3 separate regions of the Homo sapiens genome follow, and all the other regions are linked to region 3. The links come from fine-mapping of genetic effects on gene expression. A gene starts in region 3. Each other region holds a variant in brackets. All regions are shown on one strand. Distances are from middle to middle. Region 1 has its middle 44 kb from the start of GMPR. Region 2 has its middle 110 kb from the start of LINC02543. Region 3 holds the start of MYLIP (myosin regulatory light chain interacting protein).

Region 1 (4,276 bases), 66 kb after region 3:
AAGTGTGTTTTTTTGTTTTGTTTTGTTTTTTTGGAGACAGGGTCTCACTCTGTCACCCAGGCAGGGGTGCAGTGGTGCAATCTCAGCTCACTGCAACCTCCGCCTCCTGAGTTCAAGCAATTCTCCTGTCTCAGCCTCACAGGTAGCTAGGACCACAGGCGTGCACCACCATGCCTGGCTAATTTTTTGTATTTTTAATAGAGACGGGCGATCTCACTATGTTGCCCAGGCTGGTCTTGAACTGCTGAGCTCAGGCAATCCGCCCACCTCGGCTTCCCAAAGTGCTAGGATTATAGGGATAAGCTACCACACCCAGCTGGAGAAAGTGTGTTTTAATGGGGTAATAATATATTTCATTTTATTTATTTTTTGAAGAGAGAAGATCCCACTATGTTGCCCAGGCTGATCTTGAACACTTGGGCTCAAGTGATCCTCCCTCCCCAGCCTCCTGAGTAGCTGGGATTACGAGCATGAGCCAGTGCACTCAGCTGCTGGGATAACACTAGGTTTAAAAATCCTTTCTGGCTGGGCGCGGTGGTTCATGCCTGTAATCTCAGCACTTTGGGAGGCTGAGGCAGGCGAATCACGAGGTCAGGAGAGCGAGACCATCCTGGCTAACAAGGTGAAACCCCATCTCTACTAAAAATACAAAAAATTAGCCAGGTGCAGTGGCCCACATCTGTAATCCCAGCACTTTGGGAGGCCGAGGTGGGCGGATCACGAGGTCAGGAGATTGAGACTATCCTGGCTAACACGGTGAAACCCTGTCTCTACTAAAAATACAAAAAAATTAGCCGGGCATGGTGGTAGGTGCCTGTCGTCCCAGGTACTCGGGAGGCTGAGGCAGGAAAATGGTGTGAACCCGGGAGGCAGAGCTTGCAGTGAGCCGAGATCGCGCCACTGCACTCCAGCCTGGGTGACAGAACGAGACTCTGTCTCAAAAAAAACAAGCAAAAACAAACATTTTATTTAGAAATAATTTTAAATTTATAACAGACTGTCAAGGATTCTATAGAGAACTCCCCTATTCCCTTTACCCAAATTCACCATATCCATTTTTAACATTTTGACACACTTGAGCTCTTGTGTGTGCATGCACTCTCTCCTCACTCTCTCTGTCTGCACAGACACACACATTAAGTTTTTCTGGGTCATTTAAAAGTACTTTGCAGACTTCATGACCCTTTACTCCTCAGCGTATATTTTTTCAGTGTATATTTTCTAAGAACAAGAAAGTAATAAAATTCAGATAACTTAATATTGACATAATACCTTAATCTATAATCTTATGCCAAATTTACCAATTGTCCTAATAATATCCTTTAAAGCAGTTTTTGGTACATTATCCAGTCCAATAACACACTGATGTCCTAATAATTGTCCTAATAATATCCTTTAAAGCAGTTTTTGGTACATTATCCAGTCCAATAACACACTGATGTTCCTTAGAGGCTCTAGGGAACAAATGCATTATTTCGAAAACGTTTCATTGTCACAAATTACTTTATTTTTAATGTGGGCTTTGAATAGTTTATTCTAGAACCAACCACCCCATTCCTCTTAAAGAGATCAGCCTAGTCTTGAAAAGTCCAGGTTTGTGAAGACACATTTCCTTACCCATTCTCTGAAGTGTCAAGTTCCTATTTCAAACACATACACACAAAAAAAATTCAGAGGAAAATATTTGGAAATGTTCCTATTTGTTGTGTGCC[C/T]GTGGCCTAGGAGGTGACAAGAAACAAAATTGTTCCCTGCTTCTCTGTCAAAATCCTGGCATGTAGACCCTCTGTTTTCTCAATTCGTTATAGAATTTCAACTGCTGAATGAGCATTCTTTAACCTGAGCTGACCATTTGGAATTTAAAATTAGCAGAGTAATTATATTTACTGGGCCACTGATTCAAGGGAAATTGAGCTCAGCTGATGAATTTGCATGTCGTGAAATGGGTCATGACAGCAGATGGTCTTCCAAGAAGCAAAAAATAACTTTGAAGTTGGTTGCTCTTTCTCCTTGACTTCTTCCATTGAACCCCGCTGCAATAATGTGAATGCTGAAAGCAGGTCAAGTGAATTTGGGATGTCTGGATGGATAATCAAGGAGAGTTGTTAGTTGTCAAAGAAGAATATTTTGATCTTAAAATCAATCACCATATATCGAGATCTGATTATAAAGCTAATGCTGTGTTCAATCACCATCATCATTAACATTTATTAAGCGCTCGCTTGCACAGGTGCTATTCTAAATGCTTTACATGTATTGACTTGTTTAATCTGCACCAAAACCTATAAGCAAGGATTATTATCATCTGCATTTTACAAATGAGAAAATTGAAAGTAAGAAAATAAATTGACCAAGTTCAAATAAGGTGTTTTGGTTTTTGCTTTTTGTCATATGAAATAAGTGAAGCCTGAGGAGATTTTGTCTATATTAAACTCAGAAATGTCATATTTAGATTGTGGTTTCTAAATACCATTTCCCACTAAAAGAAACCAGGGCACTTTGGAGAAATGGCTGATTTGATATCTGGAGCTGGAAATGTACAAGATGAGCATAGAACATCTTGTCATACCACATGGCAGGAAAATGACTGGGATCGTTTTTTAAGGCTGAAGAGCTCTTATTGAGCAAAGAGGAACAAATTTGAGCATCAATAAAGAGAAGAATTAAAATGGATGTAAACAAATAGAAAATATTTGTTGAAACACATGGACTGTATTTAAATCCATTGGTTTATAATAACACTGAAACAGAAACACATTTGGTATTCTTTAGAGGCTCTAGGGAACCGATGCACTATTTTGAAAACTGATCAATAGGGAGAAAGAATCAAGCATTTTTTTCTTTCATTTTTTATATGAACTGTATCTCAGTGTAACCAAATATTTAACAAGGGCAAGTTTCTTTTTACATAAGTAATCTACCCAACAAATGAAGAAGAAATAATTAAAATATCACTATTTGAATCATTAAGGAATTAATGTTTCTCAGCAATGATCAACAATGGCTGGTAACATTTAGAAAGTGACATTTTATGATTCTTGATGGAAGTATTCCACACTACCTATATAATAGTCTTGCAAAAAAAAAAAAAATCTGTTCAAGCACCTGTATCTAACAGAAAATACAGAGGACAGAGGAGCATGTTAAGCAACACTGTGGGGATGAAATCAGAAAAATCCACACTATGAGAAACTCAGGACAAAGGGTCTATTTCTTCTATACAACAACAATCACAAGAATGAAAGACAAATGTAAGGAGGGAGAATATTTACATTAAAAGAGACTTGAGGATTGGGCATGATGACTCACACCTGTAATCCTAACACTTTGGGAGGCTGAGGTGGGAGGATCTCTTGAGCCCAGGAGTTGAAGACCAGCCTGGGGAACATAGCGTGACCCTATTTAAATATTTTAAAAAGAGAGAGAAACTTAAGAACTTATTATTAGCCAACAGTAATATATAGAGCTTTGTGGATCCTATTTCAAATGCACTTTAAAACAAAAAACAACAAAGCAAATTAGAACCAGAACATTTATAGATAATCAGGAAAATAGGAACATGGATATTAAAGAATTAGAATTACAATTTGGGGGATAAGATGATGATGTAATTACATTTAAAATAGAGTCTTCAGAGATACATACTAAAATATTTCAAATAAAATTATATGGTGTCTAAGGGTTGCTTCAAAATAATTGGGAGAAGCCAGGTACAGTGACCCAAGCTTGAAGTTTCAACTACTCAGGAGGCTGAAGCAGGGGAGACTGCTTGAGCCCAGGAGTTTAAGTACAGCCTAGGCAACTTAGTGAAACCATGCCTCTAAAAAAAAAATAAAAATAAAAATAATTGGGAGTGACTGGGGAAATGCATGGGGATATAAAGAAAAAAATAACTAATAACCATTACTGAGCTGGATGATAAGTATGTGGAGTTCATTATATTATTCTCTCCACTTTCACATATATTTGAAATATTCCATATAAAAAATGTTTTAATATGGTTCACACATCCAGAAATGCAAGTTTATTTGTGGCTGTATGATATAATGCAATGTTTCTTAAAATACATTCTTTGCAACATTAGTTCCAAATAATAGACTGGTTCCCATTAATAGATTTCCTTCATATAACAGATTCTGAGATTAGATTAGAAAATGCTAAAGTAGGCAGCAAAACGGCTGAATAGAAGGTTCTGGGCCAGGTGCACTGGCTCACATCTGTAATCCCAACACTTTGGGAGGCTGAGGCAGCCAGATCACCTGAGGTTGGGAGTTCGAGA
Region 2 (4,276 bases), 240 kb before region 3:
ATAAAAATAAACCTATGCACCTACCAACTGCAACTGAAGAAACAGATGGCTGCCAACACTGTAATATGTGCTGCTTTCCTATCCATCATTACTCTTACCACACTGGGTGGTAGAGAATCTATACTTGTCTCTATTTCCCACTGGCATCTGAGTCCTGGGAAACAGGTCTGGATCTGACCCATGCATAGTGGTATTCCAAGGCCAAGCATAGGGTGTGATAAGTTGCAATCACTTAATAATATTTTTAAATTGAATATAATAATAGTCAGAAAGGGGAATTTTTTTTTAATAGCCAGGCTCTCAGAAAACAAGTCAGTTATTAAGAACTTATCATCAGTTCACACTGTACTTTGGGTCATTTTTCCAAGGTCAGAGATCAAGTTGTATAGCTTAAGCCTCCTTGTCTGCCTCCTTTGGTGAGGTAGTATGCTATGACTTTTCATTTCTTTTCTTTTTTTCTTTCTTTCTATTTTTTGGTGGGCGGTACCATTGCTTATTTTAATTTTTCAGTTGTGTATCAATAAGGCTGAACAGTTTCTGAAGTACCAGGAATCTATATTAATATTATAATTGCAAAGTGAGTAAACTTACTCTTCCATGGTAATAAGTAATTCAGTTCCTGTCCAAAGCGAGAAATGTCATTCGTGACACTGATTTCACAAATTAAATGCTATCAGCTACTTGAATTAAATAAGGAAACATATCACTAATGGAATTTAAATTAAGGTAACAATAGTAACTCTAATTTAATAAGGGTGGACCTCATGCTAGGCACACTGTAGATTTTTTGCTGATCTTTACCATTATCCTAGAAAGATACGAATGATTATTTCTGTGTTCAGATGAGGACATAGAGGTTCAAAGGGCGAGGGATTGAACCAATGCCACTAAGCCTGGACATCAGAGAGCCAGAACGGGCATCAAAGTCTGTGTCTCCACAAAGCCAAGCCCCTTCCCCCATATCACACAGCATCTCAAACACCATAACTAAAGAAATAGCACAATGCCTTTAAAAAGTATTTTCCTTATTTTTTTCTTTAATTTACCCTGGTCTATCACTTAAAAAAATCATTTTTATTGTTTTAAAATTATAACCTTTACTATTTTTTTACATGGTATTGGATATTTACTAAAAAGAGTATAATAAAGTAGTATGTTATTCATGATAAGTGCTAAAAGGAAAAACAAAGCAATGTAAGGGGATGGGAGGGGACAAGTCTGGATGTTTCGTTAGAAGAGGAGTTCAGAGGAACTTTCTTTGATAAGATGATATTTGAACAGAAACCTCAGTGAAAGGAGGGAGGGAATCTGTGGAGATATCGGGGGTAGAAGGTGGGGAAAGAGGGGTCCCGGGCAAGGTGCACCTGCCTCAGTGTGTACATTCACACCTAATTTGTAGCATATCCCAAGCTATAATATGGCTGTTTACATTTTAGAAGAGATTCCCCTACATTTTATGGAGCTTATGAATTGAAAAAGTTCTCTTAAGTCCTCAAAACAACCGATTTCTCTTGACTTCCAGACCCCCAAGAGCAAGCTGCACCTTTGCCTGCTTCCTGTTGACTCTGAATGAGGAGAAGGTTGCTCAAGCACGCACTCCCACTAGTGAAGCTCAGCAGAGAGCTGGTGATTGGGGACTTAATGAGATGGCACCTGTGAAACCCAAGTACATGCATGAAAGCTTATTGCTATTTTGGTTTTTGTAAGATTGAAAGTCAGGGGCACTCAGCATGGTCATATTTATCAAGCAGAAAGACATAATTCTCTTGTGTATTAGAAGTAAAGGTCCCATTCAAAGCGCATGTGTATTTCTATCTCTCCAGGCATGCTGGGGCCCGTTAGACCAAATACCACGTGGATGGTCTCAGCAGACAGAAAAACTCCACGGAGTTCTATCTGGGTAGAGGAAGGCCATCAAAGGGAGATATTGTCCAGGGCCTGAAAGTGGCACCAAAAAAAGAAAGGGTGGATCTTCACACAGGATGGGTGGAGGGGAAAGGAGGGAAGCTATTTAGCT[A/G]GAAACAAAACAAACCCACCCAGAATGAAATTGCACAATAAAAGGAGGAACAGAGAGTTCACAGTGCCAATTCGAGAATAAGTTCAATGCATATTCTAGCAAATTAGTAAATAAAACAGGATGAAATAGTGGATCAAGAAGGATTATTAATGAAAAGAACCATGACTTTGGGTTGCTAGGCTCCAGCTTGAGAGTCGCCAGCAGGACTAGATATGTCTGGTTAAGGTGGGTGGAAGCTGTCTCCATGTTCACAGTCATGTCTGCAAAAATAGAATTGGGATGATGAGAAAAGCCTGAAGGAAAATAAGCTGCTCTTCTACTCTCTCCATTCCTTGTGCATTGCTTCAATTTAACCTTACTAAACAAGCGCCGGCCTGCAGAAAGATGAGTGGTGTTTTCTATTCAATTAATCATTGAGGTGCTCTCCCAAAGAAACCGTCTGTCAATAAGACACATTTGGAATGATGACAGGAGACCATGGACTATTAAACAGTAGAATGATGTGGATTTTCAGCTCACTTTCAAGGTTTCAGAGAGCACATACAACAAACACTTTCCTTCTAAAGACTCTAGGACCCCCACACTGTTGAATAAATGACTGTGTGTGTGTGTCTCTCTCCATCTCTCTCTCTCCTGCTCTGCAACATTTATGAAAAACTAGTGCAAAAATTGTGCATGGTTATGGATTCTCAAATCAAGTTTCCCCTGGGTTATCATTCAGATGAACTTAGCAAGAGAATCTTATTGGTGATAATAATTATGATAATGAAAGTAACTTCCAGGCTGCGTGTGGTGGCTCATATCTGTAATCCCAGCACTTTGGGAGGCCGAGATGGGAGGATTGCTGGAGCCCAGGAGTTTGAGACCAGCCTGGGCGACATAAGGAGACCTCATCTCTAAAAAAAAATTAAAAATTAGCTGGGCCTGGTGGCTCACGTCTACTTGGGAGGCTACTTGGGAGGCTGAGGCAGGAGGATGGCTTGAGCCCAGAAGGTTAAGCCTGCAGTGAGCCATGATTGCACCACTGCACTCTAGCCTGAGCCTGGGCAACAGAGTGAGATCCTGTCTCCAAAAAAAAAGTAACCTCCAATATTTGCACAGGTCCTTATGGTTCATACTTAGTCCCCACAAGAACGCTTAGGTAGTACATATCCCCATTTTATACCTAAGAAAGCTGGCTTAGGCACACGCTGCCAGAATTTGGAAGCAGTCAGCAGAGCAGTCCTAGGGAGTGCTAGGTCTGAGCGGGACTGGACCCTTTATCTCCCTCTGCTTTCCTCTCTGCCCTGGCCAGAGAAGAGCACCAAACACATGCTGTCAATCCTCACTCTGTCTCCACAGGGACGCCAAACGTCCTGTGCTACTAACAGACTTTCCACATGTGGAACTCCTTATGGCTCACAGCAGTTGGGAGACAACGACACTGCTGATCAACCAACTGCTCTGCTGCTGGTCTTAACAAGCAATGATAAAAAAGACCCATCAACTTCTGAGGTCGGCCTCCCAGAAGACAAAGCCTTTGTTCCCAATGTGGAATCAAGTCCTTGAGGGCGCCAGCTCTGTGTCTGTGCTTCCTTCAGCACCCTGCTCTTTTCCTCTTGCCAAATAGAAACCTTTTGAACTAGCATTTCTCAAAGTACTCACCAGAATGTTCCAGAAGATGTTAGGCAATGGAATGTGGAGAGGGTGGTGGGAGGATTCTGTGATCAAATGTGCTTGAGAAATGCTCTTGAAGATTTACATGCACACTAGTATAGTAAAGTTTCTGAGGAATCCCACAGTAAAGAACTATTTAATTTTATTTATTTTTGTGGTTCAGATTCTCCTTTTCTTTCTCCTCTGAACCCTACCCATGTCTAGTGGAATATTTCTTTACCCATTATAGAATTGTAAAATTATGCAACCCTCCAAAATAATATCAGAGCAAGGCCAGGCGTGATGGGTCATGCCTGTAATCCCAGCACTTTGGGAGGCCAAGGCGGGCAGATAACCTGGGTCAGGAGTTCAAGACCAGCCTGAACAACATGGCGAAAGCCTGTCTCTACTGAAAGTACAAAAATTACCTAGGCATGGTCATGTGTGCCTGTAATCCCAGCTACTCAGGAGGCTGAGGCAGGAGAATCACTTGAACCTGGGAGGCAGAGGTTGCAGTGAGCCAAGATCGTGGCATTTCACTCCAGCCTGGGCGACAGAGTGAGACTCTGTCTCAAAATAAACAAACAAACAAAAAAAGACAAAATAATATCAGTGCATAGAATG
Region 3 (4,145 bases):
ATGTCAGATTTTACCTATGCTTCTACAAACTATTTTACAAGCTTAGATTTTTTAAAAAAACAATGAAATCATACTTGCAAAAGAAAAATCCCTGCTAAAACCAAAAATATAAGTTATTTTTAAAGTAGTCCACAAAGTGGGTATTTGGTTTGGGTGTTTGCTTGTTTTATTTTTGTTTATTTTTTTTTTCTTGGCCAACCAATATTTTCCCGTTCTACTCATTTCCACACCTGGTCCCATTGATTCTATGAGTTTCCAGTTAGCCAGCTTTAGTTTCTATTGTTCATAAACAAAAATACTAACCAATATAACTGGTCTCCCTATTGCCCCTCGCCTCTTCTTCCTCTTCTGAAACTTCTAGCAATTAAGCATAAAGTAGACAAGGAATGAACCAAACGCTATCTTCCAGATAAATTCCCCAGATTATTAGTAAACTGGAATTCAGGGAATAGGCACTGCAGTTAATACAAGAAGGGACTGTTTCAGCCCACAATAGCATGAGGTGTATTTATAAGACAGAAAGATGTGAGAGTGCACCTGTTCCTCTGCAACAGTGGGGGTTAGGACTTGGACAGTTTACAGTTTTACTCGGTCAGCTTTAGCAAAGAACTGTGTGTGGGAGGATCCCTCCTTTTTTTTTAGCCTTGGGCTCTGATATCGTACCTGGTTGTTCGGAAATAAAGGCCACTAACAGATCCTTGGGACTCGTGAAGGGGGGTAGGGACAGGAAAAGTCATCATTAAGCAGTGAAGGCACTGAACTTATAGCTCCCCTTACATACACGGGGACATTCAAATGCTTTTGTGAACGTTATTATCTTTGCTGCGCTTCCCAACAATGCTGGGTGGAGACAGAGCAGATATTGCCATCTCCATTTTACTGTTGACAACACCAAGCTTCAGACAGATGAAGTAAGTTTTCTCTTTTTTTTTCTTTCGTTGTTTTCTTTTTGTTGTTGTTGTTGTTTAGAGACAGGGTCTTTTGCTCTGTCGCCTAGGCTGGAGTGCAGTAGGGGGATCACAGCACACTGCAGCCTCGAACTCCCAGGCTCAAGTGATCCTCCCACCTCAGCCTCCCATGTAGCTGAGACTACAGGCAGGCGCCACCACGCCTGGCTAATTTTTTGTATTTTGTGTAGAGATGGGGTTTCGCTGTGTTGCGAAACCGGGCTGGTCTCAAACTGCTGGGCTCAGGCGATCCTCCTGCCTCGGCCTCCAAAAGTGCTGGGATTACAGGTGTGAGCCATCGAGCTGGCCTGAAGTAAGTTTGCTAAGTTTCCACGGCTGAAACCCACATCATCTGGCTCCTATAAAGAAATCAAAAAGGTAGGCTATGTAATATATTGGCAAAGAGGAACAAGCGGTAAATGAGTGAAGGGTTGTAGACCTTTAATAGCTAATATTGCAGTAATGCCACCTGTTAGGTCAGGAGATGAGCACCTTACCTTAAGACGAGGACAACATCTGGTTGCCTGTGAGAAGGGACAGGCAGGGTATCAGGTGCTGCACAAATGTTTAATGAATGAGTGAGATAAGACAGGAGGTAGAATGAGCAACCTGAGAGAGGGCCTGGTACCCTGTAAGGCGTTTTGATTCAGCAGAACGAGTAAGGAGAAGCCCTTCCGGAGTGTAACACACCAGCACTAGACCAAGACACCTGGCTCACTGGTCAGCTGCAAAAACTTTCATACTCAGATTTTGTTTTTCTCAATGATGAGGTCTTAATAAGGAACAACAATTCTGCCTCCAAGCAACCCACTGTGGCTAATCCTGGTGGAAAAGAGTTTTCTTTTTCTCTTTTTTTTTTCTTTTTTCTTTTTCTTTTCTTTTTTTTTTTTTTTTTTTTTTTTTTTTTGAGACAGGGTTTTTTGCTCTTCTTGCCCAAGCTACAGTGCAGTGACACAATCTCAGCTCACTGCAACCTCCGCCTCCTGGGTTCAAGCGATTCTCCTGCCTCAGCCTCCCAGGTAGCTGGGATTACAGGTGCCCGCCACCACGCCTGGCTATTTTGTTTTTTTTTTTGTATTTTTAGTAGAGACGGGGGTTTCACCATGTTTGCCAGGCTGGTCTCGAATCTGACCTCAGGTGATCCACCCATCTCGGCCTCCCAAAGTGCTGGGATTACAGGCGTGAGCCACCATGCCCGGACGAGAACAGTTTTCTTTAGGCTTTGGGTTGCTCCTTTTCCTTTTTGCTTTCACAACCGAAATGCGTGCTCAGAGTGATCCAAGATATTTGAAGAACAGTGGCAGCTTGGAGGTGTTTAATCACCGTAAATTCGAGACGGCAGAAAGGCGTCCCCGCCTGGAGCCCCGGGCGATCGCTCACTCTGAGCAGCGTCGCCCAGCGGACAGAGGCGGCTGGTGTGTTCCGGGGTCTCCCTCCCTTCCCGCAGCACTCGGCGCCCGCAAGCTGCCACCTCCCGGGGCGGCCAGGGAAACTCAGCCGGCTCTGGGAGGCGGGGGCCGCGGTCGAGGGGCGCCGCTATTGGCTGATCGGGCGGGGGAGGAGGGGCAGGGAGGCCGTGATTGGCGGGGACCCGAGCTGAAGGGGGCGGGGCCGCTATATCAGCAGAGTCCCTGTCGCAGCGCAGGCAGTTGGGCTGCTGGAGTGCGGCGCCACCGCGGAGGACAGGGGCAGCTGGCGGGCAGCGGGTGAGGGGGTGGCGGGGACGCGAGTGGCGGCCGCGGGGCCCCGGACAAGGGTCCGCAGAGCTGCAGCCTTCGAGGGCCAGCCCTCTCCGAGTCCGGGGCTGGGTCCCACCAGTGACAAGGCGGCAGCCCCGCGCACACCAAAGAGAAGGCGGCTGTGGCGGCAGCGGCAGCCCCAGCCATGCTGTGTTATGTGACGAGGCCGGACGCGGTGCTGATGGAGGTGGAGGTGGAGGCGAAAGCCAACGGCGAGGACTGCCTCAACCAGGTGAGGGCGAGGGGCAAGAAGGGGCCCCGGCGGGTCCCGCGAGGCCGAGGGGCCTCGCAGCGACGCCTGGCACTCTGGCGCGCCCCCTACTAGGGGCCGGGAGGCACTGCGGCGGCAGCCGGGGGGAGCGCGTCCCCTCCTCTCCACGGGCGTGGGGCGCGCGGTCTCCTCCTGGCGCGCGTGGGGTGCGCGGAGAAAGCGCGCAGCGGGGGTCCCCAGCGCTGAGGGCCGGGCGCAGCCCGCAGCCGGGATCCACCCCCCAGCGCCCCATCATCCCCCCAACCCAGCACTTTCCCGGAAGAAGGCGGCTCCGCACACCTGCCGCAGGTATGTGCGTGATGCCGCCTGTCGGGTCCCCGCGGCGCCTGGCAGTGCCACCCGCGTGCCAGGATGGGATGGAGTGGCTCGAAGCAGTCTCGGGCCCCAGGGGTTCTTGGCAGACAAGCCGGGCCCTTGTCTCACGCTGCTTCTCAGGCTGCTGCTCTCAAATGCACCGTTCACCTGCATCTCCGGGTTTGCGGGGGACGGGAGGAATAGGTTTGGGTCATCTACTGCTCGGTTGTTTTTAAGCATGTGTTTCCTTAACAGTGAGGGAGATCGGTGCCAAATAGTGCAGAGGTGGTATGGCAGACAGCACATGTGATCCCAGGAAAACGCTGTGCCCTCAACCCCTCTAGCTCTGAGATGTTTGGAAAACCGCTTGTGAAGCTTAGCTGACACTTGTGGCGTGTTCCCTCAATGTGTTTGATTTTTGGAGTCCAAATGGTTAAAATTGCCCAGATAATAAGTCGCCAAAAATCAGCTGTGCAGAGTATGCTGGTGGAGGGAATTCCGGTGATTGGAATACGAAGGAAAATACCCTGTAGTTTCCCCTCCTCATCTTTTGGAAGGCTACTTTTGAGGACTCCTTTTTTCTCTATTGCAATTGGTCATGCCCTAGACGTTAAAAGGAATTATGAGCCTCCATACTAGAGCTCGTGGTTTGGTATCATTGGAGCCGTGGAACTTTGTTTTTCCAGTTTAGATCAGGAATTGTAACACCATTGAACTTTGTAAAAAGCACCAGCAATCTTAGCCTCAGGGAGCCGTTGGGTTTGCTTTGATACGTACCATTTGCTCATCCAGGCTGCATTCCTTTTTGTTTTAGGTGTGCAGGCGACTGGGAATCATAGAAGTTGACTATTTTGGACTGCAGTTTACGGGTAGCAAAGGTGAAAGTTTATGGCT

What was found.
Region 1: its variant is fine-mapped to the expression of MYLIP in aorta (GTEx, PIP above 0.99). The same link has a PIP of 0.9 or more in tibial artery.
Region 2: its variant is fine-mapped to the expression of MYLIP in whole blood (TOPMed, PIP 0.93).

Annotation. Positions count from the first base shown.
Region 1 is chr6:16,192,045-16,196,320 of GRCh38, forward strand. No RefSeq gene overlaps it. Among named protein-coding and RNA genes, the nearest start is that of GMPR, 44 kb to the right of the region's middle. The variant C/T (reference allele first, on the strand shown) is at 1,713.
Region 2 is chr6:15,885,952-15,890,227 of GRCh38, forward strand. No RefSeq gene overlaps it. Among named protein-coding and RNA genes, the nearest start is that of LINC02543, 110 kb to the right of the region's middle. The variant A/G (reference allele first, on the strand shown) is at 2,018.
Region 3 is chr6:16,126,492-16,130,636 of GRCh38, forward strand. It overlaps MYLIP (myosin regulatory light chain interacting protein), which reads left to right and starts at 2,595. Exons shown (of 7, transcript NM_013262.4): 1 at 2,595-2,918; 2 at 4,066-4,145. The coding sequence starts at 2,832. RefSeq lists a silencer at 2,277-3,276.